Regions from separate parts of the Homo sapiens genome. Here regions 1, 2, 4, 5 and 6 are each reported to be linked to region 3. The links are microRNA targets in miRTarBase. Many come from high-throughput screens and were not tested one by one. Region 3 holds a microRNA gene; each other region holds the end of a gene's coding sequence.

Region 1 (5,000 bases), not on the chromosome of region 3:
CTGCTGTCCAGATACAGGGAAGACTCAGGATGAGGGTGCCCGGGCTGGACGGCTAAGGGCACGAAGACGATATCTGGTAGAGAGGGCCAGAGATGCCCGCGTGGTAGGGCTGCTGGCAGGCACACTGGGTGTAGCCCAACACCGTGAGGCACTGGCCCACTTGCGGAACCTGACTCAGGCTGCTGGCAAGCGTAGCTATGTGTTGGCCCTGGGGCGGCCCACCCCTGCCAAGCTTGCCAACTTCCCTGAGGTGGATGTCTTTGTGCTATTAGCCTGTCCTCTGGGTGCTCTAGCCCCCCAGCTTTCTGGTAGCTTCTTCCAGCCTATACTGGCACCATGTGAGCTGGAAGCTGCCTGCAACCCTGCCTGGCCACCTCCAGGCCTGGCTCCCCACCTCACACATTATGCGGACTTATTGCCTGGTGAGTAGTGGGGGCATTGCCTAAGCTGGAAACCTGGGGCACGGAGTCAGGGGGTGAGTATGGATTTTCTTTCCTCCTCCCTTTCAGGCTCTCCCTTCCACGTGGCTCTCCCACCACCTGAGTCAGAGCTGTGGGAAACCCCAGACGTGTCACTCATTACTGGAGATCTCCGACCCCCACCTGCCTGGAAGTCATCAAATGATCATGGAAGCTTGGCTCTGACCCCACGGCCCCAGCTGGAGCTGGCTGAGAGCAGTCCTGCAGGTAAATGTACAAGTCTCCACTCCCAGCTGAGCTTTTTCTCCAGATGCAGCGCACTCAGACTGAGCCCCCTCCCTCTACAGCCTCATTCCTTAGTTCCCGGAGCTGGCAAGGGCTGGAGCCCCGCCTGGGTCAGACGCCAGTGACAGAAGCTGTGAGTGGAAGACGAGGGATTGCCATCGCCTATGAGGATGAGGGAAGCGGCTGATACCATGTGGGGCTGGAGACATAGATGGACTTATGAATGGCTGCTAGGACCTTTAGTGCTCCCTGCACCAACCTCCCATCCCCCTGCCAAGATCCTTGAAGGACCCTGGAAGGAGGGAGAGCAGGCAGCCCTTCACAGGATAGGATCCGTCTCTGTCCTGTCCTGGCACTGGCACAAGCTCAGCACATGCCCAGTAATGCGTGTTGTTTGGCTGATGGAATAAAGGGCTTAGGGACTTCCCTGAGGCCTCTGGACCCATCTGTCTTCCTGAGGGCAGCCCAGGACCTTTGGCCAATCCCAGTTCCCAGGCTGCAGTTGAGGGTCTGTCCTTGTCAAAAGGCAGGTGCTAGACAGTCTAGACCAGGGTTTCTCAAACTCGTACTTGACATTTGGGGCCAGATAATTCTTTGTTGTGGGGCTGTCTGGTGTATGGTAGGGTGCTCAGCAGCATCCCTGGCCTCTGCCCACTAGACATCAGAAGCACTCCCCCAGTTGTGACAACCAAAAATATCTCCAGACCTTGGCAAATGTTATCTGTGGGGGAAAATTGCCCTCAATTGAGAACCACTGGTCTAGCTAGACCTGCACTGTCCAGTACAGTAGCCACTAAATACATGTGGCTAAACTTAAATTTAAGTTAATTAAGATTAAAAGCTCAGTTTCTCAGTCACATTAGTCATTCAAGTGTTCAGACAGCCACATGAGGGGACAGTGCAGCTACAGGATATGCCATCATGGCAGAAAGTTCTATTGGTTGGACAGCGTTGGTCTATACTGACTCTTATTTCTCAGGGAGATCACAGCAACCTAAATAAACCAGATACCTTTTCTCTTTGTGTTTCTTTTTAATTCATGAAATACTGCAGGTCCTGCACTGGTCCTGGGATGTAGATGTTAACTGTATTTAACCAGATTCCTTTCCAGTGTACCTGGAAAGAGAGTTAAATACGCAGTCAGTACACAGTGAAACAGCTCTATCTGGGAGGAGGGAAGCCCCAGGGACAGCTGGATCCCACAGGAGATACCTGACAAGGACTAAGAGGAGGCTTCCCAGAGGGCATAACACCTATGCTGGATCTTTTGGAGGAAAAAATAATTGTCAGGAGAAAAGGAGTGAAAAAGACCTTTGGGCTTAAACATGAACCAACATGGCGGATGCTTCAAGCAAGTGGGGTTGCTGGGCCCTAAAGGTGGAGAGGGGTGAAATGAAAAGACTCGCCTCTTCTTCCCCACATTTGTTGAGAATCTGGTCACAGTGGCATTGTCGAGGGTATTGAAGGTGAACAAAGGAGATGTGGTCCCTGCCCTCAGGGAATGCCTAGTCTAATGGTGGAGGCAGAGCTGTAAGCTAACAAGGTAACCCAGACAAAGTGGGCATCAGTCATGTGTTCTACAAATATGTACTGAGGACACACTCTGTGCCAGGTACTGGAAATACAGCAGTGAGCGACACAAAAGCCATGGTGCTTCCACTCTTCCAGGGGAGTTGGACAAATAAAATACTTAGTATGCCAAATGGTGATCAGTAAGTACCGTGAGAAATGTAAAGCTGGGAAGCAGAGGAGCGTTTAAGTGGGGTGGAATATTAAACAGAATGGTCAGAGAAGGCCTTTTCAAGAAGGTGAGCAAAAACTGAAAGGAAGTTACAGGATGAGCCGCATGTATAGTTAGGAGAAGCAGAGAGAGCAAGTGCAAGGGCAGTGAGGTCGCGGTATGGTTGGCACGTTCAAAGAAATAGCAAGGAGGGCAGTGCAGCCAGAGGAGGGAGTTAGTGGGGGAATATTAGAAGGTGAAGTCAGCTGAGGGGCGTGGGGAGCCTAGCAGGCTATTGTGAGAACTTTGGCTTTTCTCCTGAATGAAATGGGAGCCATCAGGGCATTTCGACAGGGTAGTGACATCTTACTGAAGCTTAATAAGCATCACCAGGACATCGCGGGAGCCCAGCAAACGCGCTTCCCTGCCACTGGGTTAGGGAAGGCTTGCCGGAAGGACGATTTCGGAGGACAGCAGGTGTTAGCCAGGCAGCGGAGCGAGCGCCAACAGGCGCACTGGGGCGGAGAGACGCCGTGAGCAAGGTGAGGCAGAGGGCACGCGCGGCGCCACCCGCCACAGGCTAGGACGCACGGCTGCCAGAGAGGACGCCTTAGGGGCCCGCGAGCAGGCTCGGGAATAAAACAGGGCTGGCAGGGCGAGGTGGAGAGACTCGAGAAGGACCGGCCAGATGTCGAAGTTCCTAGAGAGGAGGGCGCCCAAGCCTCCGCCGAGACGCGTGACTACAACTACCACAATCCCCAGCGCCTGCGGTTCCAGCGTCGCCTTGCTCTAGACGGGCGGCGGCGCTGCGCGGGGAACCGGCGTGGGGTCACGTGGTACCGGCGCATCACGTGGGCGAGTTAGGTGACGCTGCGGGGCGGGCGGACAGACTGCGGGACGGACGGTGGACGCTGGGACGCGTTTGTAGCTCCGGCCCCGCCGTTCCGACCCCCGCCGCCGTCGCCGCCATGACGGGGCTAGCACTGCTCTACTCCGGGGTCTTCGTGGCCTTCTGGGCCTGCGCGCTGGCCGTGGGTGAGGCCGGGTCCTGGCGGGCGGGAGCAGCATCGCGGCCGAGCTGGCCGGGTCGGAACTCGGCGGGGAAGTGGCCTGCGGGGAATACTGGCCCCCCGCGCGCTCTGCACCCGAGGCTCTGGGGACTTGCGCCTGCGAGGGCCTCTGACTCCGACAAAGGAGACCCGGATTTCCAGCTGCTTGAGGAGGGGTGCGGGCGGGTAGGGGCCGCGAGGGCAGCACTCCCCCGTCCTGCCACTATCGCTGTCTCCCCTCGCTCCCACGTCTCACTGCTGTCCCCCCTTTCTTGCTCCTGACCGGCCCGCTCGGTCACAAGCCGGCTGCTCCGGTTCCTCTTTTCCCAGTCGCTTTGCCCTCCCCCACCCACAGCTTGTTGGGTAAACAGCGGAACGGACTGGGCCGGCGGGATCTGGCTGGAGCGCTTGCTCCCTCGGTCCCGCCTCGGATTCGGGCTTGCGGGTGGCGACCCTGCCTGCGCAGGTGCTTGGTCTGGGAGGTGGTTTTAGCGAGGGAATGGCAGAAAATGGAGGCCTAAGCAGAGGAATCTGTCTACACAGCTGTACTGTCACCTGGGGGCAGCCTGAGGACGCCCCTTCAGGGAGGTGGCCCTTCAGCTCGGCAGCTACTTTAGGTTGAAGAACTTCTCTCTACCGAGCAGCCCGTAACCCCCTTTTTCTCCCTCACTGCTGCAGGAGTCTGCTACACCATTTTTGATTTGGGCTTCCGCTTTGATGTGGCATGGTAAGGGAGGGCAGGGGGAGGATTCCCCTTGAAGCTTCTTCCCTGCAGCCTCTCTTCTTTTCTCTGGTCTGAGTCCCTCCCCCACACCACTGCCTGCCTGGGACATGGACCTTTGGGAAATACGCGGTCAGTTGTTGCCTGTAGAACTGGTGGTGGGGTTGAAGGGGGTTTGAGGGGTTAAGATTTTGTGCTCCGCTTCCCTGCTAGAGCTGAACTGCTTTCTTCTCTGCTTCCACAACAGGTTCCTGACGGAGACTTCGCCCTTCATGTGGTCCAACCTGGGCATTGGCCTAGCTATCTCCCTGTCTGTGGTTGGGGCAGCCTGGTGAGTATTGGGGTGGTGGGACTGGGGGCAGGGGCTGAGTCATGGCAGGTGGTGTCACTGGGGTCTTAGGCATGCTGAGGGCAGTGACAGCTTGGGCTCTGCTCATCAGTTTTTTATCCTTCCACCAGGGGCATCTATATTACCGGCTCCTCCATCATTGGTGGAGGAGTGAAGGCCCCCAGGATCAAGACCAAGAACCTGGTCAGGTAAGTGTCAGGGTCCTTGGACTTTTGTCAGAACCAGCTGTGTTGGCGCTGCCTGTGTGTTTGATCTGACATACTGTTTCTGACAAGCCACCTTGTGGGATGGGATGTTATAGGGGAAAGATTGCTGGGGACTTACTGGGCAGGAAGGACGGTTTCTTTCTCATTTCTTTCTCCTTTCCACTCCTTACCCCTAATCTCTACCACTACCAGCATCATCTTCTGTGAGGCTGTGGCCATCTACGGCATCATCATGGCAATTGTCATTAGCA
Region 2 (5,088 bases), not on the chromosome of region 3:
GTTGGGCCCCTGTCCTAAAGAGGGCAGGTCCCCAAGTGTGATGGCTCCATTCATGTCGATCCCAGTCATCGATTCACGTCGATCCCAGCCAGATCTTCCCCGAGAAGCCCCGACTGAAGACAGGAGCGGCTCGGCTGATGTGTACCCCGGCCCTGAGGCTGCTCTGAGACTTCTGAGGGGCTCAGCCTCTGTTTGTAGAACAGAGCCCCCTGGCACAGCCTGGCCCAGCCTCTTTTAAGGACAGAGTCCCCTGGCTCTAGCCCAGCCCGTTTTTTTTTTTTTAGACAGAATCTCGCTCTGTCACCCAGGCTGGAGTGCAGTGGCGCGATCTCAGCTCACTGCAAGCTCCGCCTCCCGGGTTCACGCCATTCTTCTGCCTCAGCCTCCCAAGTAGCTGGGACTACAGGTGCCTGCTATCACGCCCAGCTAATTTTTTGTATTTTTAGTAGAGATGGGGTTTCACCGTGTTAGCTGGGATGGTCTCGATCTCCTGACCTTGTGATCCACCCGCCTGGCCTCCCAAAGTGCTGGGATTACAGGTGTGAGCCACCATGCCCGGCCTAGCTCAGCCCGTTTTAAGGACAGAGCCCCCTGGCTCTAACGTGCTCTTTCTCTCTCTCTCTCTCTCCCCAGAGCACTGCAGTTTCCTCCTGAAGGCTGGCTCCGGCTCTCCCTCAATAATGGCAGCATCACCCACCTGGTGATCCGACCCAACGGCCGAGTTGCGCTCAGGACCCTCGGGGACACGGGGTTCATGCCTCCCGACAAGATCACTCGATCCTGAGGGCTCCGGCCTCTCCTTCCCTCTGTCCTCCCTGCACAGGCCGCACACACTTAACGTTTTGTTCCCAAGGAGACCGGCGGAAAGTAGAAACCTGCAATGCTGCATCTGGGAACTGACTTGTGACCAGGCTGAGAAGGGGAGAGTTGGGATCAGACAGCCTGACTTCTCTGCAGGGTTTTATACCTGACCATGAACCCCCAGGATGGCGTGGGGTTTAAGGTGAAAGCGTCTCACGCACAAGTCAGGCCTGTTGTGGGGACTTGAAAGAGGCCTGACCCAGACCACCATGTTCGCACCCACAGCTGACCCGTGCTGAGGGTCCAGGCTCCATTGGCAAAGCCGGTCAGGCACGAGGGCGACTGAGGCACGTGGATGAGGAGGGCACCCAGGTTCTGTTCACAACTCACTTCACTTCATACATCCTTTTAATTTCTTAAAACCCTCTTGTCCCTTAAATATTTGTCAATTAAAGATTTTCTGGCTGGGCACAGTGGCTCACACCTGTATTCCCAGCTACTCAGGAGGCCAGGGTGGGAGGATCACTTGAGCTCAGGAGTTCAAGACCAGCCTGGACAAGGCAACATAGCGAGACCCTGTCTCTACTAAAAATACAGAACTTAGCTGGGTGTGTCGTGGGCATCTAGAGTCCCAGCTACTTGGGAGGCTGAGGTGGGTGGATCACTTGGGCCCGGGAGCTGGAGGCTGCAGTGAGCTGTGATTGTGTCACTGCACTCCAGCCTGGGCAAGCGAGGGAGACTTAAAGCAATTTTTTCTTTTGAAACGGAGTTTCACTCTTGTTGCCCAGGCTGGAGTGCAGTGGTGCGATCTCGGCTCACCGCAACCTCTGCCTCCTGGGTTCAAGTGATTCTCCTGCCTCAGCTCCCGAGTAGCTGGGATTACAGTCGCCCACCACCATACCTGGCTAATTTTTTGTATTTTTAGTAAAGACAGGGTTTCATGGAGAAACCAATATAGAATTGTTCAGGCTGGTCTCGAACTCCCAACCTCAGGTGATTCACCCACCTTGGCCTCCCAAAGTGCTGGGATTAAAGGTGTGAGCCATCGTGCCTGGCCTAAAAAATTTTTTTTTCTTCATCTGGGTTTTTGCTTTGAAAACAAGTTTCTCCAAATTTACAGATTTCCTGATGATGTTGGGTCTGAACTCACCAACTTGATTAGGTCTTTAGGGGCCGAGGGACTAGCCAGCTGCACAGGTGACTGGATGGGGGAGGGGCAGGTGAGGTGGGTCTACAGAGGTGGCTTCGCCTTTGACCTTCATGCTGGTCTCGGCTGAGGTGACACGCTAGTGACAGCCCAATAGGGGGTTACCCTTATTGAGTAAAATACTTCAGATTGACAGCTCAATCTTAGTTTGCCTCCAGTTAATCTTTTATGCTTAGGGATTAAATGTGTGGTTTTTTTTTTGTTTTTTTTTTTTTGGAGACGGAGTCTCGCTCTGTCACCCAGGCTGGAGTGCAGTGGCGCGATCTCGGCTCACTGCAACCTCTGCCTCCTGGGTTCAAACGATTCTCCTGCCTCAGCCTCCCAAGTAGCTGGGATTATAGGCGCCCACCACCATGCCTGGCTAATTTTTTATTTTTAGTAGAGATGGGGTTTCACCGTGTTGGCCAGGCTGGTCTCGAACTCCTGACCTCGTGATCTACCCACCTCGGCCTCCCCAAGTGCTGGGATTACAGGCGTGAGCTAGCATGCCTGGCCAGGGATTAAAATATTCAAACATGTTGTGTGTACCCAGATATGCTGTTAATTTAGGAAAAACAGTACAATTTCTATGAAGTGGTTGTGACTATTTTCTGTAGTCAATACAGTTGGGATATCTGATCTATTTCTCTGTCTACTTTGGAAATGATTGCATAATAAATAAAATTTTACTGTTTTTTTAAAAGGACTAGTTGTGAGTGTGTTAAAAGCGTGGAACTTCGGCCGGGCGCGGTGGCCACGCCTGTAATCCCAGCACTTCAGGAGGCCCAGGCAGGTGGATCATGAGGTCGGGAGTTCAAGACCAGCCTGACCAACATGCTGAAACCTCGTCTCTACTAAAAATACAAAAATTAGCCAGGTGTGGCAGGCGCCTGTAATCCCAGCTACTCAGGAGGCTGAGGCAGGAGAATCGCTTGAACCCGGAAGGCGGAGCTTGCAGTGAGCCGAGATCGCTCCACTGCACTCCAGCCTGGGCCACAGAGCAAGACACCATCTAATAAGAAAAAAAAAAAAGGAAACTTGTGCAGTGTGAGAAACGATGGTGTCACCAGAACCCTTTGCACAGTGTCCTGTCTCCCCGTGGCTGACGCCTCTGCCCGCATCGCACCGGCTGCCTGCTCAGAGGACTTCCGCCAGTGGCCTGGGCCCTTTCCAAATCCCTGACCAGGACGGCAAGGCTGACCAATGGTTGTGGAGACAACAGCCACAGCAACCATACACCACTGTCTAGAAATAGTTTGATAAGCCAGGGACGCGCCAACTTCAAAAACAAATACCAGGCACGCTCACGTTTGACCTCAGACGGGAGCAAGGCTGGCGAGGAAGCAGTCCGGGATGCTCTAAGTCAGCTACACAGGGCGCCCACGCCACAGCCCCAACGCTGGGCCTCCAGGGATGGGGCAGCGCTGCAGGGCTAAGCCTTTGTTCTGCTTAGGGCCCCGGCTCCTCTGTAAAGTGGGAAAGCTTGGAGGTGGGAGCAGCGCCAGCACGCCTGGCACTGAGGCAATGCTCAGAGCAGGCGCAGGTTTGCTGGGCAGCAAAGCTCATCACAAAGTGGAATGACCACACATCAGCTGGCCCCAATGCCCTGCGCAGCCCACGGCCACTCCCATCGCTCACGTCATAGACGTGAGTCGCACTCATGTGAAGATCTGGACAGACTACCTGGTCTAAAGGGGGAAGTGGATGGGAGACCACGAGCAGTTTTCAATGGATCACAAGAAACCAGTGACCCAGAGTCTTCAAATCCTTCTGCAAAAAAACAAACAAAACCCAAAAGGAAAGAAAACCTGATTATGCTGCTTAAGTCAAATCTGAAGTCAAGGATTTTGAAAAGTTAAGCCACAAACTCAGTGTGTGACTAATTCTTTAAGAGCGTACAGCAATGATAACCAAGTCTACAGCCCTTGGTATTCCCAGGCAGCCTCCACTCCAAGTCCTAACCAGGCCCTGCTTATCTGCCAAGATCAGAGAGACTGGGTGTGCTCGGGGTAGTATGCCCATAGATGATTACCTAAGTTTCTTGAATATGAAACTTTAAATAATTTTTAGTTTCTTTTTCTAGAGTAAATTCCCAGCAAACTTTTTTTTTGAGACATACTCTGGCTCTGTCACCTGGGTTGGAGTGCGGTGCCACAGTCTCGGCTCACTACAACCTCCGCTTTCCAGGCTCAAGCGATTCTCATGTCTCAGCCTCCCAAGTGGCTCGTTCTACAGGTGTGCGTCACTGCACCTGGCTCATTTTTGCATTTGTGGTAGAGATGGGTTTCACTATGCTGGCTAGACTGGTCTCGAGCTCCTGGCCTCAAGTGATCCGCCCACCTCGGCATCCCAAAGCACATGAGCCACTGTGCCTGGTAGACTTCCCTTCTAAAATACCTGCTGTTCAAAGTGGTTCTTCCTTAAATGGCCTTTTCCAGTCTTCTGCATGTGGGACGGACGTAGATTAGCAAAGTGAGGATGGCTCCCGGTTTGGCTGGTAGCTGGTGGGGGTCTAATTTCTGAATGCTGGACTCAGGGCAGGTATGGCGGGGGAGAAGGCAGGGAGGGGCAGGCAGGAGACTGGGGAGTGGGGAGCTGACCCATACCAGGGCAGCCCCCAGGGATCTTCAGTGTGCATGTTGTGAACGCCTGCGTGGAGGGAGCCGCATGAGGGGAAGGCTGAGGGTGTCTGGACTGGGTGAGTTACAGGGGCCCAGCGACGTCAACGATGGAAACCGTCCCCTGGTTTGGGACAGACTGAAGACTTCTCACATGTTAGTAACGATAGCCTCTGTCTGGCCAAAGTGAAAACTGCACACCAGAAGCCTCAATGAGACTGGTGGGAAAGGCAATGCCACCAGATGGCGGCCAGCTGCCAGGGGTCGCCATGCCGACGTTTATCCCAAAGCCTTTTCTAAGGAGGGAGCACGGGCGGGAATCTGCAGCTGGAGCAGTCACAGGGTTTCCAACCACGACAAACACGCCTGCACCCCGCACGCACAGCCGGGCCCCAATGAGGGTTTCCATCAGCCCTTCCCTGGGAAAACTCTGCAGGCTTCTGGAAACATCCACACGGCTCTGGAGGACCTGGCTGTGGTCCC
Region 3 (5,072 bases):
CCCCCTCCATTTTATGTGGTGTGGGGTCCTGAGGAAAGGCCTCACCTTCTTAAGTCCACGCTGGATGCTGCAGTTTTTACAGGAAACCACCTTGCAGTCCCAGTGCTCTGAGGCCCCACAGGTGAGACACAGGTCAGGGTCACATTCTCGCACTGCCAGATAGCAAGGACATTGCTTGGTATTGCACTGGGTCTTACAGCGACAGCCAGGGAAACGATTCTGACCTGGGAAGGGAAGACAGGTAAGTCTTAGAAGGGAAATAAGCTAATACTGGGGCTTGTGGTTGACTCAAGGGACAGCAAAGAAGTAAATTTTTTGTGTTCAAGGATGTTTGGCAAAATAAGAGGAAGCTCCCTTCCCAATAATCAAATACACAAGTTTTGTCCATAGAAAACTGAGTGCTTCCCAACATTCATGCCTTCGAGTCAAAAAAGCAGGTGTGGTCAAGCATGGTGGCTCATGCCTGTAATCCTAGCACTTTGGGAGGCCAAGGCAGGAGAATCACCTGAGCCCAGGAGTTCAAAACCAGGCTGGGCAACATAGGGAGATCCTGTCTCCACAAAAAAATTAAAAAAAAAAATAGCCATGTGTGGTGACACCTGCCTGTAGTCCCAGGCTTGATGGATGTAGGGGGATGAATGGCTTGAGCCAGGGAGGTTGAGGCTGCAGTGAGCCATAATTGTGCCACTTCTCTCCAGCCTGAGCAACAGAGCTGAGATCCTGTCTCAAAAAAATTTAAAAAATGAAAAAAAAAGCAGGTATACTAATAAGAAGTGTCCCCTAGAGATTCCCCAACAATCCTCTCCCTCCCACTGAGGTGGAGAGTACCCCAGAGAATATGAAATCAGTGTGTTTCACTGGTAAATTGTCACCATCAAAACAAGTATCATTTTGAGAACAGAATGCATCCGTTCTATGCCATCCTTCTCCACCCACTGCCCAACCCAGCGCAACCACTTCTCTGCTGCGGCTAAGATCACTATCTGCTATGGGTTAGGAGGTATTTCCTCCAGCAAAACCGCCTGGGCACCAAGTTCTGCAAGCTGTGGGGACTGCCATCAAACTGCTCAGCTTTGAGTTGGGAAGGGCATGGTGGGATAAGAAGTAAAAGATAAGTACCCGGATGTCTCTGCTGACATCCAGGCCCCTGTCTTCTACCTGATATTAAAACTCCAGCTATGAAATGAAAATAGACATACACAGAATCACAAACAAAAAATATCTGAATAAAAAATTTTTTAAAACAGTATTCAGAAAAGGGAAACTGGGGCTGTAACTTAAAAAAAAAAAAAAGAGTCCCACATTTCTTTTCTTTTTGAGACAGAGTCTTGCTCTGTTGCCCAGGCTGGAGTGCAGTGGCACAATCTTGGCTCACTGGCAGCCTCTGCCCTCTGGGTTCAAGCAGTTCTTGTGCCTCAGCCTCCCAAGTAGCTGGGACTACAAGCATGTACCACCATGTCTGGCTAATTTTTGTATTCTTAGTAGAGACGGGGTTCACCATGTTGGCCAGGCTGGTCTTGAGTCCTGACCTTAAGTGATCTGCCCGACTTGGCCTTCCAAGTGCTGGGATTATAGGCGTGAGCCACCACACCTGGCCTAATTTTTTTATTTTTAGTAGAGATGAGGTTTCGCCAAGTTGGCCACGCTGGTCTTGAACTCCTGACCTCAAGTGATCCGCCTACCCAAAGTGCTGGGATTACAGGCGTGAGTGACTGCGCCTGCTGCCCCCCACATTTCTTAATTCTCCCCTAGAAGACAAAGTTGGGAAAGTATCTGATTTCTGTGTAATTGCTGCTTTTAGAATCATGAACCTAAACGTTTTCCAGAAACGACTCTCCCAGATCTCATGCACTTATTTCATTTGTAGAATCCCTAAAACACAGCAAAGGGGATATCAGAAGGCCATAAGCAGTAAAGGGCACAGGAATGGGGCAAGCCTAGGGCACACTGGAGCCAACTGTTTTGGTAGACTATACAGAAAACGTAGCACACTTACAGTCTGGGTTGCACTGGCAGAACTTCTCACAGAAATTCTGAGTCATGATGCAGGGGCAGGTGCTGTCACAGGGGCGGTCTGGGTGGTCGCAGGGTTGGTAGTTGTACACTTGTGTGGAAGAGTTATCTAGGAAAGAAAACAGAGGAGGATGCTGCTGTGACCATACTCTCCAGCTGTCTTCCCTCCCAAGTGTCCAGCTGCCCTGATTCAGAGGAGGCTGGTCCTAACAATCTCCTTGGACACACATTTAGCACCTGAAGTGAGAAGACAGGGATGACCGTTGTTCATAAGCTGCAGTGGGGTGATCTGCTTTGTGGGGAGGGTGTGGAGATGGTCTGGGACAACAGGGAAGCTATTCTAAACATTAAATGAGGTCTGGAACCTAGCAAATGGCACACTAGAAAAGTCACATACTGGCCAGGCACAGTGGCTCACGCCTGTAATCCCAGCACTTTGCGAGGCCGAGGCAGGTGGATCATTTGAGGTCAGGAGTTCGAGACCAGCCTGGCCAACATGGTGAAACCCCGTCTCTACTAAAAATACAAAAATTAGCCAGGCATGGTGGTACATGCCTGTAATCCCAGCTACTTGGGAAGCTGAGGCAGGAGAATTGCTTGAACCCGGGAGGCGGAGGTTGCAGTGAGCCAAGATTGTGCCACTGCACTCCAGCCTGGGTGACAGAGCGAGGCTCCATCTCAAAAAAAAGAAAAATCACAGACCACAAGGCCCTTAATGTTACCTCCTAAGAGGTCTTCTCAGTTGCAGTGAGAGGCTCAGCTGTTCTCAGTTGCTGCAGAGAATTCTGCAATCTGCGGAAGTGGCACAGGGTCAACAAGTGCAGCTGGAGGTGGGGTAGGGTGATGACCACAGAGTGAGGCCTCCAGCTGAACTGCTGAAGAATGCCCTGGTAGAACTTACCTTTCTTCAGCTGAATCTTCCTGCAGTGTGCAGCCCACAATCTGAAAAAGACAGGAAGGACAGGTCTCAGTCACGGCCCTAGGGAGCTCTGCAAATGCAGGTAAATGACAACGTGACTTGCTCTGAGGGACTGTGTTTGATGACTGGGGAGTATCTTCCCAAACCCCTCAACAGGACGACTTTGGTACACAGAAGCTAGAGTCCATCCTAAATCCAGCTGGCCTGTGCTACAAGAGTTAAACTTAAACACAACCCCTCCCAAACAAGCAAATAACATAAAAGAACACAACACAGAAATAAAAGAAAGCCCAAGCCTATTGGTCTATTATAAAGCTATTGTTTCTCTCCAAATCTCTCCCTTTGTCTTTGTGGAGGTGGAGATATGGGGGAGTTTCAAGATGGGGAGGTGGGAAGGCCTTTCAGGAATCTTCTCTGAAAGAACTGAAAGGGAGGAGCCACAGGGATTTCCTTCTGTATCTAGAAGTGGTGTCAGCTCCTTCCTCTGATAGGTGATAGTCACTAGGGAACAGGGCCAGGGTGCAGAATTTTTTTAAAAACTTCCAACCTAAGTAAAGGCTATCATGTAACTCAGAAAAACAACACAAACCAAACAAATAAATAAACTCTGATCAGAGTTGAGAAATGGGTAAGGTGGTAACAAAACCAACAAGGAGAAATGGCTTCAGGGTGGAGCCATGAGGCCAGCTCATGTCCTATTGGCCAGAAGCTTAAATAGAAAAACAGACAGTTATGGTCCACAGCACTGGGGGACAAGAAGAGGGCTGATCTAAGGCACAGACCCTCAGGGAGCACTCAGGAGGCTGGCTCTCAGTCATGTGATGCCAAGCTGATGGGCTCACACAGCCTGTGCGGTTGCTAAAGAGGGAGGCAGATGGGAACTCCAAGGGGAGGTCAGAGCACAGGGAACAGCCTGGCTGTAAAACAAAACACTTTGTCCAACCCTTCTTGCCTGTGCTTTCTTTTCTTCTTCTGTGAGGGGTTCATGAGCTCATCTGTTGGCAGCTTCAGGATAAGTGATTCTTTGACTGCAAACTGAAAGACCTGGAAGAGAAATCCAACGGGCCTGTCACTCCTCGAGCAAGGGGGTCAGGTAAGTGGCCCAGCTGGGTGCTGGCCTTGGGAGGGTTCTGAGAAACTCAGGCAGCTGACCAAGCCTCTCATCAGTCAGGGAGAGACAGAGTGCCACTGGAACATTGGGTTACTGGCTCTGAAGTTCATTCCTAATTATTTATCCTGACTCAGGAAAGGAGAAATACTGAGCACAGTAATACCGCCCCTGGTCAGAAGCTGTCACCTACTACTCTTTCTACCAAGCCACGGGTAGAAGAGTGGGCTGACTGTGACCAACAGTATCTTCTTCTTTTTAGGAAGGGCAACGCTGTGCCTTGTGTAACTGAGTGTAAGGCAGGACAGGACAGGACAGGAATGGTTTCAGTGGGCTAAATATTAGCTCCCTCTGTCAGTATAAAGATACCGGAGCCTCAGCCATTTCAATAGGATGTGTTTTTTCTCTTAAAGCACTGGTTTTTAGTTTTTCCTTTTCTTTGTTGGGGCTATTGGCCCTTTGTGGGGGATCTTTGAAAACTGTAACTATTCTCAGGAAAATACAGACAAGAACATTCTTGCATACAAATCCATAGATGGTTACGTTGAGAACCTGTGATCAGGGAAATAGGTATGAGCTCCAAAATGAAAGCAAAGGGCACTTCAGCTCATGGTTCTGTTTTTGTTTGTTTTTTTTTTTTTTTTTTAAGAGAGAGGGTCTCATACTCTTGGCCAGGCTGGAGTGCAGTGGTGCCATCATAGCTCAATGTAGTATAGAACTCCTGGGCTCAAGCCATCTTCCCACCTCAGCCTCCTGAGTACTAGGACTACAGGTACGTGGCTTTTTTTTTTTTTTTTTTTTTGTAGAAATGGGGTCTCACTTTGTTGCCCACACTGGTCCTGAAATCCTGGCTTCAAGCGATCCTCCCACCATGGCTTCCCAAAGCACTGGAATTCTAGGTGTGAGCCACCTTGCCCAGTCCATGGTTCTATTAATTGTTCTCAGTACAGGAAGCATGAAGAAGAGGCCACAGAGTCTCCTCCAGAAGGTAGGAAGCCAAAGCATTGGGGTTCCTTTCCTGTTGGACATGCT
Region 4 (5,088 bases), not on the chromosome of region 3:
AGTTATGATTTCTCATTTTCAGAAATAGAGAACTGTATTTTTTCTAGTATCTTCATCTCCGGTTAAACGAGACAATTTTGTAACTTTATATACCTCATTCTACTTTACAAACTATGAACAAAGCAGATTGGGGGGTGTATTAATTTAGGTCAGAATAATAAAAATAACAGATACAGCTTAATGGTTTCTGATTATATTCTGGTAAGTCCCTGAAGGTATTTATTACAGTTGTCACTTGAGGCAATAAAAATGTGGGAAAGTTTAGTACCTTAATCAGTGTGACAATTATTACTCACATCTACTTTGTCTGGATCCAGAATTTTTTCAGAAATATCATTACTTGTGTAGTTTTTGGGTTAGGATACAATTTTATTATATTCATGCTTATATTATTACAGTAGGTTTGTAACTCTTGAGGGATAATTTATTTATTTTGCTGTTAACATTTTAGTTACAGAAGAATGGTCTGAGAAAAAATGGTATTTTGAAAAATGGCTTGATCTGTGACTTCAAGTTTGGACCGTGGAAGAACAGCACTTTCAAACCCACAACTGAGAATGATGACACAGAGACAAGTAGCAGTGATACATCAGATGACGACGATGTGTGAAGGATTTCCTAACAGCTTTAGAAATCTTAGTGTGATACATCTCTCATACAGTTTGGGGTGAATTGTAAAAATGAAGAACTATAATTTATGTAGTGAAATACCCCATTAGAAGAGGATTTTTTGGGGGACTTCAATATGAAGAAAACCAAGAATGTTTTGTTGGGCTGTGTTGAACATTATTTCTTTGTAAATGAATGTTGTAGGAATGAGGACTTGGGTTGGTCCAACATTGACTTTCTTCATCACTGCAACATTTCTCTGACTAGCAATGTGACGATGTAACAAATGAGATTTTCTCATTTAATAATAAAAAATTGTGTAATGTTTTGCAAAGCTTCTGTCTTAAAATGTCCAGGTCTTAAGAAAAAAGGCAGCTTACACTGTTTTGCTTGCAGAGTCATATCTTTTTCGTACAATGGAAATCCTCAAGTCCACTTTGTGCGGTCTCCCTCTCCTTCCCCCAAAAAACAACAACAACAAAACAAAAACCAAAAAGGAAAATGTAGCATGTTGGCTAAAACTGGAGCAAAGTGCACTAAAACAATTTCCTGAACTCACCTGTTGTACTATTCACCTTTTAAACCATAAATTGCTCTTTAGCCATTTGTAGTGCAGTAAATGTTACAGGAAAAGACTTGGCACATTTTCTTCCAAATTTTAAGAGGTGATTTTCAAAAGCTTTATTGGGGTATGTTGTCAGACCAGGGTTTTCAGAGTTGATGGAAAAGAGTCTTGTGAGAAAACTTATTTTGATAAATTATTACACACGCAGAAAAACTGATCACACTGACTGGATCTGTCCACGACATGGAAAATAAACTGGATTTTCAGAATATTGTTGTTTTCTGTAGTGTTCAAGGTATTGTTTCTAAACATAAACATACTCTAAACATGCTTTATTCACTTGTTAAAGTCATACTTTTAAAAGTAATACCTTACTAAAGATGGTGATTACTTTTCCGAGGTCAGAAAAGGAAAGCTAAGCGTTTTCATTATCAAATACACAAGCTTATTAAATGAATGACTGTTAACTACTTTATTTTCATTTGCACATTAATTTTGGAATTGTTTCTGTTTTGCTGCTGACGGAAATACTATTTTGGCTCTGTGTATATTTGTATTTTGATTTTTCTGGTTTGTTTACCCCCATTTGCTTTTAGCTCCCCCTTATGTTTAAATATATTCTAACTTATGTAAAGAGCATAATCTTAGAGCAAAAATACTTGAGGTTTTATGTCAGATCTAATCTTAAGTGTTTGTTGTTTTTTAAAAAGTGTTTTCTCAGATGGCTGCAGTGTTTTTGCTATTTCTGCATAAATACCCTACCTGGACTCCCCAGTTTTCACCAGAAACTGTTATTTTTTTTTGTTGTTGTTCCCACTGAGACTGATGGTGATGGGGAAATTAAAAACAACACACTAGCACACTCCCACAAAACTTGAGGAAGAGTTAGAATGGTAATAAAATATTAAATAGACCTTATACTTAAAATAAGGTTTCACTATATAATTTGTCACAATTCAATCTAATCAGCTAAAGTTAAATGTAGTTAGAATTAGCCACAGGAGAATGTAAAGCATGCTTTGACGAAGCTATCGGTAACACATATTGAATGTCTTTGAGACTCTTAGATTGTACTATTTGCTTAATAGATTAATGAAATTTATCAGATACAACCTGTATTTCCAAAAACAAGCTAGAAGGAACCTGAGGAATGTGGTTTACATTTGAGATCCACCTTACTGTGTTTTCTACTTTCAGAAAAGATTCTGTAGTTTTGGTTTTTGGCATCTTTCTTATACTCAGTTTTTTCTGCCTTAATTCCCATTTACCAGCAGTTAACTCATGTTTATTGTGCTTTCATGCATTGTGATATGGAATGTGTTTAGTAATTTACTCCTTATAAATATGGTAAAGTACAGTGGTATGGTTATTCTATGCATTAAGTTAATGACATTAATAAGCTTGGTTATGAGGGGTTGGAGCCATACATGTAATTTAAGAGAACAGTTAAAAGTGTAACATAGTTTTAGCTTGGTGTCTAAATAATGGGCAGCTGATAAAACAGCTTGGACCATATTGTTTTAAAGAGAGCCTACAAGCACAGAAACTAGTTATAGATCTAATGTGGAATTGCTGAACTCAGAACTAGGCCATGGAAGTCTGAAAAGCAAATATGGCTGTTTCAAACTCATTTTTTTGGCAGCTTTTTTATTTTTAACACTTTATTGAGGTATAAATTGACTTGAACACACAGGTAAAACATACAGTTTACAGTGTTTTGACCTACAACTAAGTGAACATAATCTATTATTCCCCCGAATTTCTTGGTTCCTTTTAAGTCCCTGTCACTAATTCTCCACCCCCCTCTCATTTTATTTTGGTATAAAATGTAATTAATGAGCAAAATTCTTAAGGTAATGACTTAAAATAGCATTTCAAAAACTATTTGCTTGATTTTAGTATAAGGATTAGAATATTTCTGCAGATAATTTCTATTGAAATTGTTAATCTAAAATCAGCTTGACTTAATCAGATTTATATTAACAGAATTCAGTATGTTAAAGGATCTGGTTCCCCCAAAATACTTTGTCCTTTTTTGCTAGTGTTTATGTATACTGTTAGAATGTGGTTATATAAACCTTTTAAATTTAGGAATCTGTTAAATAACTTGTTTTAACACCCCATCCGTCATCATCCCTAATCTGATACTGGAGTCTAAATACATGCTCCATAATCATGCAAACTAAGTTGAATCTAGATGATGAGGGTAGACTGGGTGCGGTAGCTCATACCTGTAATCCCAGGACTTTGGGAGGCCAAGGTCAGCAGATCACCTGAGGTCAGGAGTTAGAGACCAGCCTGGGCCAACGTGGTGAAACCCTGTCTCTACTTAAAAAAAAAAAAATACAAAAATTAGCCGGGCGTGGGGGCATACACCTGTAATTCCAGCTACTCATAGGATATTGAGGCAGGAGAATCGCTTGAACCCAGGAGTCGGAGGTTGCAGTGAGTTGAGATCGTGCCATTGTGCTCCAGCCTGGGCAACAGAGTGAGACTACGTCTCAAAATAAAAAAAAAATGATAACTAGGGTAGAAAGGATACACACTTGTGAAATATTTCTATAAAGTGAGATTTTTATTTTGGCTTACACAATAAGGGATGTGTTACTAGGGCTTTTAAATGATTATCACTAAGAGTTGGATATTTTAACTTTTAGATAGTTAAGTTTCCTGAGGTTATAAAAGTTATTTGGCTGTTAGGGGAACGACAGGACATATCAAGCAATAGAAAAATCCGTGAAAGCCTCCAGATGCCGCAGAGATGCTTCAGATTCTGGTTTTTGTTTTGCTACTTAATATTTCCTTTCTTTAGGCAGGGCTGAATGCTTGCACTTAAAACGATGGGACTCAGAGGACAGCTGTGATTGTTTTAATATTTAACTATGGGGCTGGGCATGGTGGCTCACGCCTGTAATCCCAGCACTTTGGGAGGCTGAGGCGGGAGGATCACCTGAGGTCAGGAGTTCAAGACCACCCTGGCCAACATGGTGAAACCCCATCTGACCCAGTCTGTACTAAAAATACAAAAATTAGCTGGGTGTGGTGGTGCATGCCTCTGATCCCAGCTACTTGGGAGGCTGAGACAGGAGAATTGCTTGAACCTGGGAGGCGGAGGCCATAAGCCATGATTGTACCACTGCACTCCAGCCTGGGTGACAGCGAGACTCTTGATATATATAACTGTATAACTATATATATATAACTATATAACTACATATATAACTATATAAAAACTATAAAACTATGTAAAACTATATATAAGACTATATATATATAAAACTATATATATATAGTTATGGGACACGTGGACCTGAAACATTCGTAGTTTAGGACTTGAGAATGTGTTGTAATTAAGAGGTTTTGTAATTGTGAATTTTTGTTCAGTTGTACAGTTAACTTTAAGTTCATTCTGCCTACCCATATGGATTCGTTTTGTAGAACTACTCTGGCATAGTGATTGAAGGTACAATGTATTATATCATTAGGTCTGGTTGAAGGACACTGCTGAAGCATGTTCCATGCAGCAGTGTCCTAACTTGCAATATGTAAGAGCATGTGTAGTGGTGGGGCCCAAACTTATCTACACCATTGGTATCATTGGGGAGCTTCCCCAATGTGTCCACCATCCCCCACCAACACCCCAGATTGTGGTTTAATTAGACTGGGGCGTGGCCTGGGCTTTAGAATATTTAAAAATCCTGCCCCCAAAACCCATTCTTTTTTTTTATTTTTTGAGACAGAGCCTTACTCTGTCACCCAGGTTGGAGTGTAAGTGGCGTGATCTTGGCTCAGTGCAACCTCTGTCTCCTGGGTTTGAGTGATTCTCATGTCTCAGCCTCCCAAGTAGCTGGGGTTACAGGTGCGCACCACCATGCCCGGCTAAATTTCATATTTTTAGAGATGGAATTTCGCCA
Region 5 (5,086 bases), not on the chromosome of region 3:
CTACATAATTTTATAACTTTACTAACACAACAAAAAAATTGTTCCTGGTTACCAAACACATTAAGAGTTTTCCATGCTATATGCCCATGTTATATCAGAAGCAGCACAGAATAGTGGTTAAGAGCATGGAACAACACAGAGGCAGGCTGCATGAGTTTGAAATCTTTATACCACAACTCATTAGTCTGAACTCTGGATAAGCTACTTAACCAATGTCATAAAGTCAGTTTCCTCATCTGTAATATAAGAATAAAAAAACCCACCTCACAGCATGGTAAAGAAGATTAACAAGTTAATCATAAAAATAAAATCTGAATAAATATGAAACTGCAAAATGAAATAAGCAAAATGAAGAAAAGGATCAGGGTGTTTAAAAATATTAATACATCCATCTAACCTCTTTACTGAACGAGGGGAAAGTGCCTCAAGTTCAGGGAGGTTTCCCTTTTCCAGACTCAATCACTGATTTTACTTTTATTAGCAAAGTTTTTAAAAAATAATTTAAACATTTAAGCAGCATCTCTGCCTAATGAAAAAGGAATGGCAAATTGAATTATTTTGACACATAATCTTTAAGAAACATAAAAATGTTTAAGGCTGGAAGTTATATTTCTTTTCAATGGACATTAAAGGTGACCCACTAAACGGAAAAACTAAGAAAAGTCATTGAGTTTTTAGTGAAAACATGGTCTTCAGAAAAACTGTTCTTAAAGATAATCTTCACAATGAAGAATTCTGTTAAAAAGTTAAAGAACATGCAGAAGAAAACCTCTGCAAGCCTGGTATTTTAGAGATAGTGCCATATGTATAAAGCCATAGGCATATACGTAACTGAAGAAGGCAAGCCATCCAACACCACCAGATTAAGTTGTTAAGATACCTGGGCAGTAGGGAAGCAGTCAGGGATAATTAACAACAACAACAAAAAACCTATCAAACAATCAAAACAAATGAAACAGAAAACCCTATTAACAAAACCTAAAAACAAGCTGGGCTTAATAGCTTGCATTTCAAAACTGAGGCCATGGAATTATACTGGTGAAAACAAAGTAAATAACAAATATGAATGCCAAGTCAAAATAATTTGCCATAAAAGATGAACAACAAAAAAAAACCCTGTTAATGTTCAAATAGATAATTTAAAAGTACCTGACTGCTAAAAACAAAATTTACAGAGTACATACCCATATATCCTAAAAGGGACACCAGCCCTCATAAATGAGCTTTTAAGAGTTTACTTGGCCGGGCGCGGTGGCTCACGCCTGTAATCCCAGCACTTTGGGAGGCCGAGGCGGGCGGATCACGAGGTCAGGAGATCGAGACCATCCCGGCTAAAACGGTGAAACCCCGTCTCTACTAAAAAAAAAAAATACAAAAAATTAGCCGGGCGTAGTGGCGGGCGCCTGTAGTCCCAGCTACTTGGGAAGCTGAGGCAGGAGAATGGCGTGAACCCGGGAGGCGGAGCTTGCAGTGAGCCGAGATCCCGCCACTGCACTCCAGCCTGGGCGACAGAGCGAGACTCCGTCTCAAAAAAAAAAAAATAAATAAATAAAAAAAATAAAAAAAAAAAAGTTTACTTACTGTGAGTATACGCATGACATAAATTTTCAGGCTGAGGAATAACTGATTAAAAAAAAAAAAAAAATTGGGAGTTCGGAGAGGGGAAATAACTCAAAGTCCCTTTAAAATATTTGCAAGAACTCTTTAAGTTTCTCTACACTTTGATGGTTGAATAATTTTCTGAAGAAAATTCTTAATTAAATCCTTGCATAAAATATAAATTAGAATAAAGTAAAATCATTACAGTCCTTTGCCAGTATAGTTACACCAAGAAGTTACATCTTCAACCTATAAACATTTGTTGATTCCTAATCATATCTTAATTGTTTATAAATTACTGGCTTAAATTATTACCAAAAAAGTAGGACAAGTCTTAAGACCTTGAAGAATTCCACTAAAAACAGATGGTAAAAATAAAATGTTCTACTTTAGTTAATAGTATTATACAAAGGTTAATTTCTTAAGTTTTATAAATGTTCTATGATAACGTAAGATTTTAACATTAAGATTAATATAAGACATAAAGAACTGTTGTATTTTTACAACTTTTCTGTAAACCTAAAACTAGGTCAAAGAAGTTAAATAAAGGCTCAGTTTATTAGGATCTTACTTCCTTTATACTAGTAAATGTGCTATGAAAGAAAAATAGCATTTTAGGTTTCCCATCTTTAGTTACCAAGTATATATATAATATACCTAACTTTGACTGCTTTGCTATAGTAATTATTTTTAATGCTAAAAAAGACAAAGCAAATTTCTAGAGAAATAAATCAATAAGCACTTTTTATTAACTTTTTTGACAAACCGATAGTAAAACATATGCTACCTAACGATAACTGTGTCCCTTTATGTATGAGTCTAAGAGAAATATTCGGATTTTTATCTGGACAAGAAATTCAAAGGCTCCTTAAGAAGAAAGTAAATACCATGGTCACTAATGTAACCAGACTAAATATAAAAGCTACATATGTATGTGTGTGTGTGTGTGTATAAATCAATGTTTTGATCAATGTAACTAATCTGAGGTTACAATAACTCACTGCTTCAAATAATATTTCAATTACATGTAACAGATTAAGATACTGTTTAGGGGAAAACAGCCTCAGAAGGAAGTATGAACAAAAAGGGATATTAATCATTACCTTTAATCAAACTAATTATCAACCTTTCCCCCAACCCATAAAGACTTCATGTCTCTAAATGGTTCCTAAATCATGGAAGATAACTTGAAAAATTTTAAATACATCTCCAGGTATCAGATGCTTATGTACTCCATGTGGGTCCAACTTTTACTGCCCAGAGTTTCTTGTCATGGTAATGTAACATCATGAAAGTCTGGTTGCCAGATCTTTATGTTTTTATTTGTAACAGAGCTAAACCTTTTAACAATTATATTAACTACAACTAAGTTATTTGCTAATGGTAGTAGAATGATACATATGTTTTATTCACGAAAATAGTACTTCTGCAAATTTTTCTTTGTAAGAATTCCATAAATACCAAGGAAAAGAAAAGACTCAAGGGGTTTGGGAAATAAACCCCTTTTAATTTTAAATCTACATAAGTTTAATTTATTCCCAAACTTTCTAAGTTCTTCCAGAGTTCTGGCCTTCAGAATATTTCCTAATTTTTCTTCTTGAGTTCTGCACTAACTCAAAACCTATCCAAACGATCTAATTCTGTATTACCTATATTTAATATAAAGTACAATATATAGTCAACATTGTATCACTAGAATTGTGAAGCTCTTCATGACTTTAAAAAAAAACTCCAAAACAATTAAGCTATTTTTATTTAACATGTAATAGTCATAAAGCAACTCCATATATTTAGTTTTCTGATATCCTAATGTATTTCCACAAACCTTTTAAGTCTACAATTTTATATAGTTTTCCATCAGGGAGGCAAGATATATATAATTTCTTTTTATATTTAACTAAAGGTTTTAAGAGGGCTTAGTCTCTAAATCAGTAACAATTAGTCATAACACCATACAAACACATTTAAATATTCAGGAAAGAGGTTGTTAAGATTATTGCTTAGTCTTATAAAATGGTGAATTTTAACCAAATTGATACCTCTGTAATCTTATTTATGTTTCCTATAACATCATACTGCTTGGCAAGTAATGTAAGTTTTGACATAATTTAAAAATTCAAGTAGTTGTAAACAAATTCTAATTTGTTAAACAATTCATATATTCCCCTTTAGTTACTATACTACCTCAGAATTAATCCTCCTTAAAAAAGTAATCATCCCACATAGAAAAAACTGCAGAGCTTCATCTCTTCCTTAAATATTTTCAAGTACTGTAAGAACACAAATCCATGAAAAAACTGATTAAAATTTGACATTTCATCTTGCTTTACTAATTATGGAATAATACAAAAACATAAAAAAAATGTTCCTTAATATTTCTTTGCTTAACAGAGAAATACAAAGAAATACTGCAATTATGGTTATGGGCTACTTTCCAGCCTCTTCAAGTATAGGACACAACTATGGTTCCTACCAGTAGGGAGAAATGAATAATCAATCTTACATAACACAAAAGAAAGATGAGAGGCACAAAAAGACAAACTGACTTTGGCTTTTAAGAACCTAATGTTAACCCTGAAATGCCACATTCAGTAACACAACAACAAAACAAAAGATTACAGCAGCAAGCCACCACTTCACACAGTATTAAAAATTCGGAAATAATGTAATAGCCTTCCTTCCATCTCCCACTCAATCTGTTGTGGCATCTTTTTGTTTTTCCTGCTTTTTAGCTGCAGGCAGTTCAAGGCTTGCCCACTGCATCGGTTCAGCTTTTCTCATAGTGATTTCAATCTTTGTTGCAGTCATAGTTACATAACTTCGCTTTACATCAATCACCTGTAACATATCAAAGAGAATTACAGGAAACCTCAGTAGTTTTATTAGTCTCAGAGGAAAACATCAGACTTGCTTATGCCAATAATCCCAAATCCAAGCTTCTAAAGGCCTCTTTTATATCTAGTCTTAAACTTTTTGGTAGGATACACTGTTAAGTTATACATCTATACTTTGCATCAATGTTTACTGAAGAATTGTCTTTTATTCTACAAATGATCTAAGTTATCAGAAAAAAAATTCTTATAAATTTGTAATACTTACACCCCATAATTTCACATTTTGATCAAATTCCTTCTCTCCTTCAAATACAATATGCACATTTAACTGAAAAAGATATACACAGTTAATTGATCTAATTCAAACTGAAGATTTATGCTATCAAACACTGATTATAAAAATAAGACTGACAAAAATGAATTAAGCTATTTTAAGAAACTGCCAATACTGTATTGTTTCATATGAGAAAAGCCACTGACAAAAAAGAATAACTGGCTTCAAGTTTCATATTGAGAACTAAGTACTATATTACTTGATAAATCTACTACAGTATCTCCAGAATGGTTCAGCAGTAAGTCTACTATACAGAAATTTTCATTTAAAATAGTTTCATAGAAGTAATTTAATTTTTTTTAATGGGAGTCATTATAAA
Region 6 (5,088 bases), not on the chromosome of region 3:
AAGATGTAGTTTACCAACAGTGAAACTCACTTTTTGAGTATATAGTTTGATGAGCTTTAATAAATATATACTTTCTTGTAACCACAATCACAGTTGAAATGTAGAGCACTTCCCTCACCCCCCAAAACTTCCTCATGCCCCTTTTTTTTCAGTCCCCATCCTGAACACCTAGTGCCTGGCAACCACTGACTGATTTCTGTTCCTTTGATCTTGCCTTTTCCAGAATGCCATAGAAATAGAATCACAGTATTTAGCCTTTTGCATTTGACTTTTTTGACTCAGTAGTGTAGTCTCTCCATGTTGTTGCATGTATCAGTATGTTCTTTTTTATTGCTGAGTGATATTCCATTATTGTGGATGTTCCACAGTTTGTTTATCCATTCCCCAGTGGACTGATATTTGGGTAGATTTTAGCTATTATGAGTAAAGCAACTATAAACGTTTCCAAATAGATCTTTGTGTAGACGTATGTTTTCATTTCTCTTGGTTAAAAATACCTACAAGTGGGACCTTATTTTAGCTACTATGAGGGAGGTATTCTTTCTACTTATAAAGAAACTACATTTTGGGCAGCATGATAGAGCATGCTTCTAGGAGACATTTCCTTTTTGAGGGAAGTGAGTACTTAAGTTTCTTAGAAGTAATGTACTGTTTTCTGATGGATGGGTGACGGGCTCTAATCAGTTTGTCTAATGAAAGAGTTGAAAAAGAATTGCCCTTTTTTCCTTGCAGTTACAGAGGAAAGCCATGAAGAGCCAGCATTCCAGAATTTTATGCAAGAATCGATGGCACAATACTGGAAGAGAAACAATAAATAGGAGACTTTAGCACACTTCACTTGTTTCTAGAAGTCCAGAATTTTGGACCTCCACGTGAAAGAACTGTTCTTACCTCTGAACTGGGGGCTCCCATAAGGGATAATTTTCCTCAGAGTAGCAAAGTTTCTCTTATTAGAGAAATCTTGTGACTCAGATGAAGTCAGGGATAGAAGACCCTTGGACCTGGCAGGTTAATGCTGATTATTCCTTGGCCTTTCCCTTGTATTTATGCAAGGAAGGATATACTGAGCTGATACTCTTCCAAGCCTACAACTTCAAGTTTTATCATTTGAACTCAAGTACTTTTGCTGCTGAGGAATGGAATCAAAAGAACGTAGTCTCCTGGTGACCACCTCAGATCTCTATTATTAGGCTAGATGTATAGCCTCTACTCCCCCAGCTTCTTGCTCTTGACCCTGCACTGTAAGTTGCCCTTCTATTAGCAGCCAAGGAAAAGGGAAACATGAGCTTATCCAGAACGGTGGCAGAGTCTCCTTGGCAATCAACCAACGTTGCTATGAAATATGCCTCACACTGTATAGCTCATTATAGGACGTCAGGTTTGTTGAAAAAAGTGGGCAAGACATGATTAATGAATCAGAATCCTGTTTCATTGGTGACTTGGATAAAGACTTTTTAATTTTAACTTTGTTCTAAGACTGCTTGTCATGATTTCAAATTAGAAAATTATATAATTGCAAACAGCTTCACTTCTCCTGTTCAACAGAGGCTTAAGGCCAGATGTCCAAACTTGTCTCAATAAGGAGGTGATATTTTACTAAAGTTTCCCACGTGCACATACTGACTAAATACAGAGCTAGGCCCAGTTTGTATTGTACTCTGAACTTAATGCAAAGTCTCCTTGGTGATTTTCGCAAAGTCCGTGGATTTGGGTCAGAGGCACATTTCATACATAACAGCCCTTATAAACGTTTGCCCTGCCTCCACATTTTACAGTATCTTAAAACAGTACATTTCTTTCAAAGAATTTTATCTCTATGAGTCAGTACTCCAACTTAGTGGTTCTCACATTGTGGACCAGGAGCATCAGCATCATCTGGGGAATTGTTCAACTTACCTCTTATAACCTATGAACTCAGAAACCCTGGGGGTGGGCTGAGCAGTCTGTTTTAGAAAGCCCTCCATGTGATTCTGATGCATAGTAGCCTATGACATAATTCCAGACCAGGTGAATCTCAAGATACTAATCCTCACATCATTTGCCTTCTCATATTTCCCTCGTCTTGACCATCTGGTGCCTGTTATGCAGTTTAACATTCTGCAGCAATAAAAGTGTTTTATTATAAAGTATTAATTTTAATGTTCTATACTTAGTGGGAACCACTGGTCTCAAAATTTGAAGCTATTCTTTAAGAGGAGAACATTCGCAAAACTCAAGCATACTTGGTTTTTCTCTGTAGTACTTTTGAATGCTTTATCTTCCTTACAGAATAACTTGTCTTCCTTATGCTTCAAGCTCCAAAAGGGTAAGGAAGAAGTCTTAATCATTTTTGTATTCCTTGCACAGGACCTAGCAAATAATTGGTACTCAATGTTTGCTGGATGAATGAACTAAATTCCCATACGGCCACTTTATGGAAACTAACTGCCTAATCGCCACTTTCATTATAAACAAAGGAAAATGAAGATAAGACTGCAACAGAGGCCAGGTGCAGTGGCTCACGCCTGTAATCCCAGCACTTTGGGAGCCCGAGGCGGGCAGATCACTTGAGGTCAGGAGTTTTGAGACCAGCCTGGCCAACACGGTGAAACCTCATCTCTACTAAAAATGCAAAAATTAGCTGGGTGTGGTGGCATGTGCGTGTAATCCCAGCTACTCAGGTGGCTGAGGCAGGAGAATCGCTTGAACCTGGGAGGCAGAGGTTGCAGTGAGTCGAAATTGCACCATTGCACTCCAGCCTGGGTGACAGAGCAAGACTCCATCTCAAAAATAAATAAATAAATAAATAAATTAAAAAAAAGACTGTGACAGAAAGGGTTTAGAGAAATGTGCTAAAGAGTTACAATTGGCAAATTTAAAATTATATGTTAAACTATAACCTCATTTGTATCATATTCATTTATTCTCAATACCTGGGACATTTAAGGCATTCAATAATGAATTAAAGCTGTGCCTTATTTTGGTCTGCATTAAAGGAGTGGTCTAAATTTTACAAGATATATTTTGCATCAGAAAATCAAACTTCAGCAGTTTAACATGCTGGCATCCATCACCAAGGCATGAAGCAACACATTTGCTAATGATTCCTAATCACTACAGTGCTACATCATTTACTTAATAAATACTGATTCAGTACTTATATATACAGATAGTCTGATGGATGAGTAACCACAGTGATGTTGTTCAGGACATGATGTAAAGTTGAAAGGTGCATATTGCTATGTTTTAAAGGCTGCCTTTACAGTAGAAGCAGCAAAGTGTGCTTAATGGACTGCTGTCCTCTGATGACCAAGCAAATGCAACAAATGAAATATGCACAAGGCTGTCCTTGGACAGTACTTGTTTGCTTTGCTCACAAAGGAGAAAAGGAAAGAAACAATTGAAAATATGTATATGGTGAAAGTATGTGAGTCCGAGCAGAAATAACAAAGGCAAAAGGATGAGGAGAGATGGAGTAAGTCTAGAGAAGAAAATAAATGGATGAGATAGAGAGCTGTCTAAGCAAAAAAGGTGTCAGACCTCTGATCTTATAAATAAGACACTTCAAAAGTAGCAAAAACAGTTTTAAGAAGGTGACTAATAGATAAGGTGTGTTGTGTTTAGCTATTTCCTGTTAGGTATTAGTAATGGGTTCCCAATGACCTGAGCCAAAAATGAATCAAGTTAAATGAAAACTGACATCTGATATGAGCATATATTATTAGTCTATTCAAGCACAGTTTTGAAGTTAGCAAACATCTAAATCCTCACATCTCTACAAGGTAGGTCAAAGTATGATTCTTCTCAGTTGTACAAGATAAATGGCTGTATAACATGTCTAGTCATAGTTAAGACAACAATTGGGGACAGTGCTTTGGTCTGATTGCCATGCCAGCATCATATTTTATCTGTGAAGGGTGGCTTGGTTGTGGAAAACTATAAAAACTGGATGCAAAAGTAAAATGCAACCTTGTTTGGTGACGTCCAGTTCCTCTGGAATTAGGAAAAACCACTTGTGTTTAAGAACAGGAGTCAAATCAATTTTTAAGGAAACAGATTCTAATACAAAAACCTTTTCTGTTGGGTCTAGTAGGTCTGGACAAAACATCTCCCTCTTTTCCTTTTATATTTTCCTCATCCTCTTCTTGCAGCGCTGGTTGAAAACAGGGGAGGACCCCATGAGGCTGTCAGTGGAGTGGGAACCATAGCTGCTATCTGAGTCATCAGGGCTCTGAGGAATCCCAGCTTCACTCATGCCTGACATAGGCTCCTCGAAGACATCACTGCCCAGCACACCATGCCCAGAGACATTGCCTTCTTCACTTTCTTGAGGCTCCATTTTCACATGGGCCAGATTCCAAAGAGGAGAAGCATTTACCTCTGCACCTAGAAACAGAGGAAAGATGGACATACACCAAGTGTATATGTGTAGCCAAGTGTAGAACAAAGAGTAAATATATCACTCAGAACCAACTAATATGCTTTGAGCTCAGTTTTCACTCTGATTCTGTACTTGGCTGGAGAATATGGTTGTTACTCTCTGCTTCAAAAAGTTAACCATCCCAAAAAATTACCAGCTCTGATTATCTTCTTTTCCATTTCTTCTACCTTTCTTTCCTCTACCTCACCCACCCCCATTTCCCCTAAACCAGGGAAGTGAAACTAGGCAGGTGGAAAGATCCCCTGTCTCACAGCCCAAAGACATGCACAACCACAGGACTTGTTCAGTTGTTTAGTTTGCCTGTCCTTCCTTCCTTCTTTTATGGGGCCATCTTGTTTTCCTGCCTTTTGTTTGGGTCTCTGGTCATCTCTTGCATTATGAAAAGTTAATGGTCACTACATAATGCTAACAGCAGTTCTCTACCTGGTCTTCTTTGAAGAGACATGGTCCCGAAGTCCGCAACAATTTCTCTTTGGCCCTCGCATCTCTCTATGTATTCTAGCAATGCTGTTCTCTTATGGTTATTCTTCCATAGTGAAAGGCTCTCTGCCCAACACTTTTAAAAGTATGACCTAATTCCATTTAGACCACATTTGAGGATTTGCTATTTGAGTCATTTGTGCATTGATGACAATTTATACTTGTAAACAACTGAGTGTCCAGACTAA

What was found. Region 3 holds the annotated microRNA hsa-miR-6780a-5p (UUGGGAGGGAAGACAGCUGGAGA, at 2,163-2,185, opposite strand). A microRNA usually pairs through its seed, bases 2 to 8, with sites in the 3' UTR of a target mRNA and lowers its output. Matches are read on the target gene's strand: a 7mer-m8 pairs with bases 2 to 8, a 7mer-A1 pairs with bases 2 to 7 and ends in A, and an 8mer does both.
Region 1: the mRNA of DPH2 is a reported target of hsa-miR-6780a-5p. Seed matches in the 3' UTR shown: 7mer-m8 at 963-969.
Region 2: miRTarBase lists PGAM5 as a target of hsa-miR-6780a-5p. Seed matches in the 3' UTR shown: 7mer-A1 at 1,782-1,788, 8mer at 1,813-1,820 and 8mer at 2,326-2,333.
Region 4: miRTarBase lists GPBP1 as a target of hsa-miR-6780a-5p. The part of its 3' UTR that is shown has no 7-base or 8-base seed match.
Region 5: the mRNA of CHORDC1 is a reported target of hsa-miR-6780a-5p. The part of its 3' UTR that is shown has no 7-base or 8-base seed match.
Region 6: the mRNA of SUPT7L is a reported target of hsa-miR-6780a-5p. Seed matches in the 3' UTR shown: 7mer-m8 at 2,690-2,696 and 7mer-A1 at 2,521-2,527.

Annotation. Positions count from the first base shown.
Region 1 is chr1:43,971,649-43,976,648 of GRCh38, forward strand. It overlaps DPH2 (diphthamide biosynthesis 2), which reads left to right. Exons shown (of 6, transcript NM_001384.5): 4 at 1-422; 5 at 510-686; 6 at 767-1,721. The coding sequence ends at 891. ATP6V0B (ATPase H+ transporting V0 subunit b) reads left to right here and starts at 3,312. Exons shown (of 8, transcript NM_004047.5): 1 at 3,312-3,459; 2 at 4,152-4,200; 3 at 4,442-4,525; 4 at 4,654-4,731; 5 at 4,942-5,000. The coding sequence starts at 3,393. LOC124904167 (a long non-coding RNA gene) reads right to left here and starts at 3,217. Exons shown (of 2, transcript XR_007066053.1): 1 at 2,795-3,217; 2 at 1,717-2,239. RefSeq lists enhancers at 1-249, 35-1,234, 2,465-3,298, 2,881-3,000, 3,051-3,100 and 1 more and silencers at 3,351-3,400, 3,801-3,850.
Region 2 is chr12:132,720,045-132,725,132 of GRCh38, forward strand. It overlaps PGAM5 (PGAM family member 5, mitochondrial serine/threonine protein phosphatase), which reads left to right. Exons shown (of 6, transcript NM_001170543.2): 6 at 634-2,690. The coding sequence ends at 784. It also overlaps the pseudogene RNA5SP379. Among named protein-coding and RNA genes, the nearest start is that of PGAM5, 12 kb to the left of the region's middle.
Region 3 is chr17:42,705,962-42,711,033 of GRCh38, forward strand. It overlaps MIR6780A (microRNA 6780a), which reads right to left and starts at 2,190; the gene lies at 2,123-2,190. EZH1 (enhancer of zeste 1 polycomb repressive complex 2 subunit) reads right to left here. Exons shown (of 21, transcript NM_001991.5): 13 at 3,885-3,976; 14 at 2,915-2,955; 15 at 1,997-2,122; 16 at 46-224.
Region 4 is chr5:57,262,143-57,267,230 of GRCh38, forward strand. GPBP1 (GC-rich promoter binding protein 1) reads left to right here. Exons shown (of 12, transcript NM_022913.4): 12 at 452-2,531. The coding sequence ends at 610. Among named protein-coding and RNA genes, the nearest start is that of GPBP1, 91 kb to the left of the region's middle.
Region 5 is chr11:90,198,115-90,203,200 of GRCh38, forward strand. It overlaps CHORDC1 (cysteine and histidine rich domain containing 1), which reads right to left. Exons shown (of 11, transcript NM_012124.3): 10 at 4,699-4,761; 11 at 2,315-4,437. The coding sequence ends at 4,291. Among named protein-coding and RNA genes, the nearest start is that of CHORDC1, 22 kb to the right of the region's middle.
Region 6 is chr2:27,649,383-27,654,470 of GRCh38, forward strand. It overlaps SUPT7L (SPT7 like, STAGA complex subunit gamma), which reads right to left. Exons shown (of 6, transcript NM_014860.3): 6 at 1,427-4,365. The coding sequence ends at 4,103. GPN1 (GPN-loop GTPase 1) reads left to right here. Exons shown (of 14, transcript NM_007266.4): 14 at 733-2,129. The coding sequence ends at 818. Among named protein-coding and RNA genes, the nearest start is that of SUPT7L, 12 kb to the right of the region's middle. RefSeq lists an enhancer at 3,225-4,424.